Linked DNA regions of Homo sapiens. The protein of the gene in region 1 interacts with the protein of each later gene in a biochemical or structural test. Each region holds a gene or a part of one and is shown in the gene's direction. Other genes may lie near its edges. The genes, in order: CHMP7 and USP8.

Region 1 (3,814 bases):
CTGCGCCAGCCTCCCGAGTAGCTGGTACTACAGCCACCCGCCACCACGCCTGGCGAATTTTTTATATTTCTAGTAGAGATGGGGTTTCACTGTGTTAGCCAGGATGGTCTGAATCTCCTGACCTCGTGATCCGCCCGCCTCTGCCTCCCAAAGTGCTGGGATTACAGGCGTGAGCCACCGTGCCCGGCCTTTTTTTTTTTTTTTTTCCTCAATTGAGACAGGGTCTTGCACTGTCCCCTAGGCTGGAGAGCAGTGACATGATCTTAGCTCACTGCAGTCTAACTCCTGAGCTCAAGCAATCTTCCCGCCTTAGCCTCCTGAGTAGCTGGGACCACAAGTGTGCACCACCATGCCTGGCTAATTTTTAATTTTTTGTTGAGATGGGGTCTCACCATGTTGCCCAGGCTGGTCTCACACTCCTCGGCGCAAACAAGACCCCCACCTCAGCCTCCCAAAGTGCTGGGATTACTGGGGTGAGCCACTGTGCCCAGCTGAAAACGTGAGTCTTAATGCTTCCCCCACAGACCATGACTGTGAATGTTATGTTTATGCTCTTCCTTGCCAGTGTCCATTCAACTAATATTTATTGAGCCAGGCATTGTCTTAGGGACTGGGGATACAGCCGTGGACAAGACAGGTCCCTGCCTTTGCAGAGGTCTTTCTGAGGGGCTCTTCCCCTGCCCTTCCCCCTGAATGACTGTACAAGGAATCCCTAATAAAGACACACCCTCTGGCAGGAGAACACAGACATTGAAGTCTGTCTTCCAGGTGGGAAAGTCTAGCCTTGTTGGGAGGCAGAGGATATGTCCGAGGTCATTGTTGGTGTTAACAGTTCCTTCCCTGTCTCCCCAAAACAGGAAGATGTGTATAATGTGCCCTGTTTGCATGTTCTGTCCCTGTGGGTTGAAAAAGCTTATCCTTAGTCAGCCTGCTTGAGCCTGCCACAACAGACTGTCAACAGACTTGCCACAAGAGTTTTTGCCGTCAGCATCAGTTTTCTTGCCACTGGGTATTGGGTTTAGTCTTCAGATTTAAAACCACCTTAACTGAGTGCTGCTCTCAGGGACCCTTTGGGACCCTGCCACTCCCATCCTGTGGCACAGTAATCTTATCTGTCCCTTTGTTTCCAGGTGTAAAGAAGAAGCCCGCCGGGCATGCCGAGCAGGAAAGAAGCAGCTGGTGAGTTCTTGTCTCCTCCAGACCCATAGCAGTGCCCCAGGCAGGCCTGGAGCAATGCCCAGCAGTTCAGAGAGCAGCTTGCTGGGGTTTTGAGGGGGGTAGAGTCTGCAGGGGGCCCAGGCACCACAGCTTATTTTACAGATGGGAGGGAAGAAAGCTGGGACATCCTTAGCGTCTGGGAAGGGCTGTCTTCCTCTTGCCCTTTGGCTCGCCCAGTTCAGCACTGACCTAAGTCTCCATGCCTCCAGGCACTGAGGTCTCTCAAGGCCAAGCAACGGACAGAGAAGCGCATCGAGGCCTTGCATGCCAAGCTGGACACTGTTCAAGGCATCCTGGACCGGATCTATGCCTCCCAGACAGATCAGATGGTAGTCACTCCCCTCTACTCCAGCACTTGGCTGGTCTCTCCGTGTGTGTTGGTCACTTGCAGCTTCGGCTTGGCTGTTTGGAGGATCCCTGGGTTCTTTCGGGATGTGGCTGGGGTTGCCTTTGCCTTTCCAGTCAGGAGGTTTGGCCTCGGTGGGTATAGGGTAAATTGAGCTTGGGTGCCAAAAAAAACACCCCAAAGCTGCCTTTTGGAGTTGAAACAATATTGTATGTATTTTGCCAAATGTCTGTCATTTGCACTGATAGCTTTGCTTTGTCTTTAGGTTTTTAACGCCTACCAGGCTGGGGTAGGAGCACTCAAACTCTCCATGAAGGATGTCACAGTGGAGAAGGCAGAGAGCCTCGTGGATCAGATCCAAGAGGTACAGAAAGGGGCCAGGGAGGGACACACAGAGAAGGAGGTGACAGAGGACAGATTTGACTTCATTGCACATCCTCTTTAACGAAACCTGACTTGTGACCTTGTGAACTTGAGGAAGCTTTCCTTGATTCTCACTTGGGGCAGGATTGCTTTGTAACCCTAGATATTTTCCACCAAAGACTGAGATGCTCAGAGCCACCATGCCCAGCTCAAGGCTTTGCACTTGTCTCTTACAGCTCTGTGACACCCAGGATGAAGTTTCTCAGACTCTGGCTGGTGGGGTAACAAATGGCTTAGGTGAGTGGACAAGGTGGTTATTTTTATTTTTATTCATTTTTTTTTTTTTTTTTTTTTTTTGAGACGGAGTCTCGCTCTGTCGCCCAGGCTGGAGTGCAGTGGCGGGATCTCGGCTCACTGCAAGCTCCGCCTCCCGGGTTCACGCCATTCTCCTGCCTCAGCCTCCCAAGTAGCTGGGACTACAGGCGCCTGCCACTATGCCCGGCTAATTTTTTGTATTTTTAGTAGAGACGGGGTCATTTTTTTTTTTTTTAGATGGAGTCTCACTCTGTCACCTAGGCTGGAGTGCAGTGACGCATTCTCGGCTCGCTGCAACCTCCGCCTCCTGGGTTCAAGTGATTCTCCTGCCTCAGCCTCCTGAGTAGCTGGGATTATAGGCGCCCGCCACCACGCCTGGCTAATTTTTGTATTTTTAGTAGAGATGGGGTTTCACCTGTTGGTCAGGCTGGTCTGGAACTCCTGACCTCGTGATCCGCCGGCCTCGGCCTCCCAAAGTGCTGGGGTTACAGGTGTGAGCCACCACACCTGGCCCAAGGTGAGTGTTTCTTCCTTTCATCCTGGAAGACTTCGCTTCCCTGTGCTGTGATGAGTTTGACAGTAGATTTGCTTTTCCGGGTGCAGGCAGGCCTCTCCTAGCCTGCCCTCCCTGGGGCTCATCTGCGGGAGCAGTCAGGGAATTGCCATTTCCTCCTCGACAGCTGTGCTCATGACCCATCTGTGCTGCGGCATTCCTCATTCACAAGGCTTCTGACTGGAGGATCCTCCTTCAAGGGCAGTGGGAATCAGGGTCAGGTCCATGGTGTTAACAGAATACACCTCCTTGGTGACTTAGCTTGGAGTGTGGAAGAATCATCTCTGCTTGAAGCTACCCTCCTGACTTCCGGGATTTTTTTTTAATCTGCAAGGAGGCCTGGCATCTTTTGTAAAGCTAAGCGGGTTTTGGTAACCTCAGTCCTGTACTCATTAATGCATTTCTCCCTTGAGTTTATGCATCTTTATGTTGTCTTTTCTTTCCAGATTTTGACAGTGAAGAACTGGAGAAGGAATTGGACATCCTCCTTCAGGATACCACCAAAGAACCTTTGGATCTGCCTGACAACCCCCGCAATAGGCATTTTACCAACAGCGTGCCTAACCCTAGGATCTCAGATGCTGAACTTGAAGCTGAACTTGAGAAACTGTCCTTATCAGAGGGAGGTATGGAGCTGTTTTCCAAGGCCTTTGGAGGGCATATGGCCTTCTGGCTGACAGAGTTGATGGGCCCAAGCCCAATTACTCCATTTGCCAGAGTACCAGAGCCCTGTAGGGAGTTGAGGGTTGTTTATATTAAGACTCAGTCTCTTAATCACTGGAATGCCTTCATCTTCAAGATTTTCCTGTTATAGTGTTCAGTCATTTCTTTGCCTTGCAGGTTTGGTCCCAAGCAGTAAATCTCCAAAAAGGCAATTGGAACCGACTCTAAAGCCATTGTAGGACCCTCAAGTGAAGGACCCTCATGTAAAAGAGAGACCAGGCTTGCTGGGTGTGTACATAGTTATTTAAACAAGAAACTCTCAGAATGTGTTTGGAAGAGGAGAAAGGAGAACCACT
Region 2 (3,814 bases), on another chromosome or scaffold:
TTTCTAGTTAATATTTACATCTTAAGATGTTCCTTTGGCATACACTCAACATTTTCCACATCGAATTACCTACTTTGCTGTAAACCAGTGGTTCTTGTTGGGGGTAATTTTGCCTTCCAGGACACATTCGGCAATGACTGTAGACAGTTTTGGTTGTTACAACTGGAAGGGAAGGATGATAGTAAACTGGCGTCTAGTAGAGGTTAGGGATGCTGCTAAACATCCTGCAGTGCACATTGCACAGAGCAGCCTCTCACAACAAATGTTTATCTGGTCCAAAATGTGAGTGATGGCAAGGTTGAGAAACGCTGCTGTAAACTGATCAGTTTTAAACTGCAGTATTACTTTTTTTGTTAATAGCACTACTGCTCTTCATATTTTGCAGGGTACAGTGTGTGTGCCTCTGTGTGTGTGTGTGTGTGTGTGTGTAAGCAAGAGAAAATACTGTTTCGATCAACCAGTTACCAAAGCATGTTTCTACCATTTTGTGTTCTTTTCTGCAGTGACCTTGTAGTTACTCTTTTCCATAGTATCATTCCCTTGTTCTCATCTCCTTTCAATCTTACTTACATATCCCTAATTTGACCATCTTGAGATAATATTTTTCCCATCAGGAACTGGCTTTTATTGCCTGCTGAATCAAATATAAAGAATTCTGGATGGCTTCCAAAGTCTTCCATAATGTGACTCCATCTCCTACATAATATAATTTAGTTATTCTTGTTAGTCAACATTTTTTTTTCCTTTTAGTTAAATTCAGCTGACAGGGAGAAACATTTATTAAAGTGGTGACTATGTGAGGACTATTGAGATAGGTGCCAGGGATCCAAAGACATGTCAACATTTTCCCTCTATCCGATTGATTATTTCCCAATAACTTCTGTAATATTCCTTATTATTACTATTTTTTCCGAGATGGAGTTTCACTCTTGTTGCCCAGGCTGGAGTGCAGTGGTGCGATCTTGGCTCACTGCAACCTCTGCCCCCTGGGTTCAAGAGATTCTCCTGCCTCAGCCTCCTGAGTAGGTGGAATTACAGGCGTCCACCACCATGCCCAGCTAATTTGGTATTTTTAGTAGAGACGGGGTTTCTCCATATTGGTCAGGCTGGTCTTGAACTTCTGACCTCAGGTGATCTGCCTGCCTCAGCCTCCCAAAGTGCTGGGATTACAGGTGTCAGCCACCATGCCCAGCCAGATGTCCTCCTTTCTTACCCTGTTCTTAGCTAAATTCTGTCCTCAAGGCCAGGTTCTCTCTCTCATCACATCATCATGAGCACTGCGTGTGTATGAGGATTTTAAAGCCTTATAGTAATTGTCTGTTGATCCCATTACTGTATTTAAGGAATGATATAGATCACAAGCATTGTAGGATTCACATGAAGAAACAAATTCCAAGAACTGGGACCATAAAGGATGGAAGAGATGGAACTTAAGTTTGTTTCTTCTTGTAGCTGAGACCTCAGATGTGCACCACTACGCCCAGCTAATTTTTAAATTTTTTGTAAAATTTTTTGTCTTTACTTTGTTGCCCACTTTGTTGGCTACCTACCATTTCTCCCTATCTCTGCCCTTTAGGCAACAACAATACTCAACATAAATATCTGTTCTTGAACTCCTGGGCTCAAGCAGTCCTCCCACCTCAGTCTCCCAGAGTGTTGGGATTACAGCTGTGAGGCACCACGCCCAGTCAGTGCACTGCTTTTTGCATGGAGAAAGTCTTGCTGCTACTTTAAAAAGGTCAGTGTGCTTAATTGATCTACATTCTGTCACAAACTTCTTATTTTATCACAAACTGATAACAAACAGTTCCCCAATCAGCACTGGTCATTGGACCATACTTGGAGTTACATTGCTGTAGTGTGAGACTTTCATACTTTTTTTAAAATTGTCACCTGTATTAAGAAATACATTTTACATTTTCATCCAGTGTTATATCATATACACATGTACATAACTGAAACAATTTTACGAAGCAGTACCTAACCTTACTATGTGTGACATAGTCTGATGTTTGCTATTTTTTTAATGCTGATCATGACCTTCTAATGGATTTTAAAAACACTGCCCTCAAGCATTTAGCACAGTGCTAGAGACATAGTAGTTGCTCAGAAAATACCATACATTTTAGCAGTGATTAAATCTTGAGAGGGTTGAGCCTTCTTAATACTTGAGGATTACTTTAAAATGTTATTTCATTGGCCGGGCACGATGGCTCACGCCTGTAATCCCACCACTTTGGGAGGCCGAGGCGGGCGGATCACCTGAGGTCAGGAGTTCGAGACCAGCCTGGCCAACATGGAGAAACCCTGTCTCTACTAAAATACAAAAATTAGTGGGGCATGGTGGCGGGGCGCCTGTAATCTCAGTTACTTGGGAGGCTGAGGCTGCTTGAATCTGGGAAGTGGAGGTTGCAGTGAGCCAAGTTCATGCCACTGCACTCCAGCTTGGGCGACAGAGTGAGACTCCGTCTCCAAAAAAAAAAAAAGTTATTTAATCAATACTTAGTTGTTTGTGGCACCTTATACAGAACGAGTGTAGAGTGGATTATGAGATTTAAGACAGCGAGAAGATACTTATGTTGAGTATTGTTGCTGCCTAAGGGCAGAAATAGAGAGAGATGGTGGGTGACCAACAAAGACAACTTTTGCTTTCCTTTCAATATTGCCAAAGACCTTAGGAGTGGCTGGTGTGAATCCCTGCTTAAAATCAGGACCAGTTTGAATGACTGCAAACCTCATTTTTCACTTTTTACCTTTTAGTCTTCACTTTGTGGTTCCAGTCATCAAATCCCTACTCTTTGTCTTAGAAAGGAGCAGAAGGATGTCAGAGAAAGAACATTTTCTCTTTATTTATTTATTTTTTTTTGAGATGGAGTCTCTGTTGCCCAGGCTGCAGTGCAGTGGCGCGATCTCAGCTCACTGCAAGCTCCACCTCCCAGGTTCGTGCCATTCTCCTGCCTCAGCCTCCTGAGTAGCTGGGACTACAGGTGCCCGCCACCGTGCCCGGCTAATTTTTTGTCTTTTTAGTAGAGACGGGGTTTCACCGTGTTAGCCAGGATGGTCTTGATCTCCTGACCTCGTGATCCGCCCGCCTTGGCCTCCCAAAGTGTTGGGATTACAGGCGTGAGCCACTGTGCACGGCTGCATTTTCTCTTTGTTAACTCATTTTCAACACTTTTGGGTTTCACTTTTGGAGCACTGCTGTTTGACTAAGGCTGAAGTTCTTTGTCAGGTTTACACATCTTAAGAATTTTTATTTTTTGTTGTTAGAAGCATGTTAATTTTTCTTGCATATACTTAGTTATTTTTTTTTCACTTGCAATCCTTCTTGAAGCATAAGGTTTTTTGTTTTGTTTTGTTTTGTTTTGTTTTGTTTTAAAAGACAGAGTCTTGCTCTGTCGCCCAGACTCCGCTCACTGCAATCTTCACCTCCTGGGTTCAAGCGATTTTTCTGCCTCAGCCTCCTGAATAGCTGGGATTACAGGTGTGCGCCACCACGTCCGGCTAATTTTTGTATTTTTAGTAGAGATGAGGTTTCACCATGTTGGCCAGGCTGGTCTCAAACTCCCGACCTCAAGCAGTCCACCTGCCTCAGCCTCCCGAAGTGCTAGGATTACAGGCCTGAGCCACCACGCCCGGCTGCATTTTCTCTTTGTTAACTCATTTTCAACACTTTTGGATTTCACTTTTGGAGCACTGCTGTTTGACTAAGGCTGAAGTTCTTTATCTTTGTCAGGTTTACACGTCTTAAGAATTTTTATTTTTTGTTGTTAGAAGCACGTTAATTTTTCTTACATATACTTAGTTATTTTTT

The links.
Region 2: the proteins of CHMP7 (region 1) and USP8 form a complex in vitro, tested with the Homo sapiens proteins (one study listed by BioGRID).

What each region holds. Positions count from the first base shown.
Region 1 is NC_000008.11:23,256,903-23,260,716, forward strand, and holds part of CHMP7 (charged multivesicular body protein 7), read left to right. Parts: intron 1-1,130; coding exon 1,131-1,179; intron 1,180-1,427; coding exon 1,428-1,547; intron 1,548-1,829; coding exon 1,830-1,928; intron 1,929-2,163; coding exon 2,164-2,224; intron 2,225-3,241; coding exon 3,242-3,421; intron 3,422-3,635; coding exon 3,636-3,697; 3' UTR 3,698-3,814. UniProt on the Homo sapiens protein: ESCRT-III-like protein required to recruit the ESCRT-III complex to the nuclear envelope (NE) during late anaphase. Together with SPAST, the ESCRT-III complex promotes NE sealing and mitotic spindle disassembly during late anaphase.
Region 2 is NC_000015.10:50,430,762-50,434,575, forward strand, and holds part of USP8 (ubiquitin carboxyl-terminal hydrolase 8), read left to right. Parts: intron 1-3,814. UniProt on the Homo sapiens protein: Hydrolase that can remove conjugated ubiquitin from proteins and therefore plays an important regulatory role at the level of protein turnover by preventing degradation. Converts both 'Lys-48' an 'Lys-63'-linked ubiquitin chains.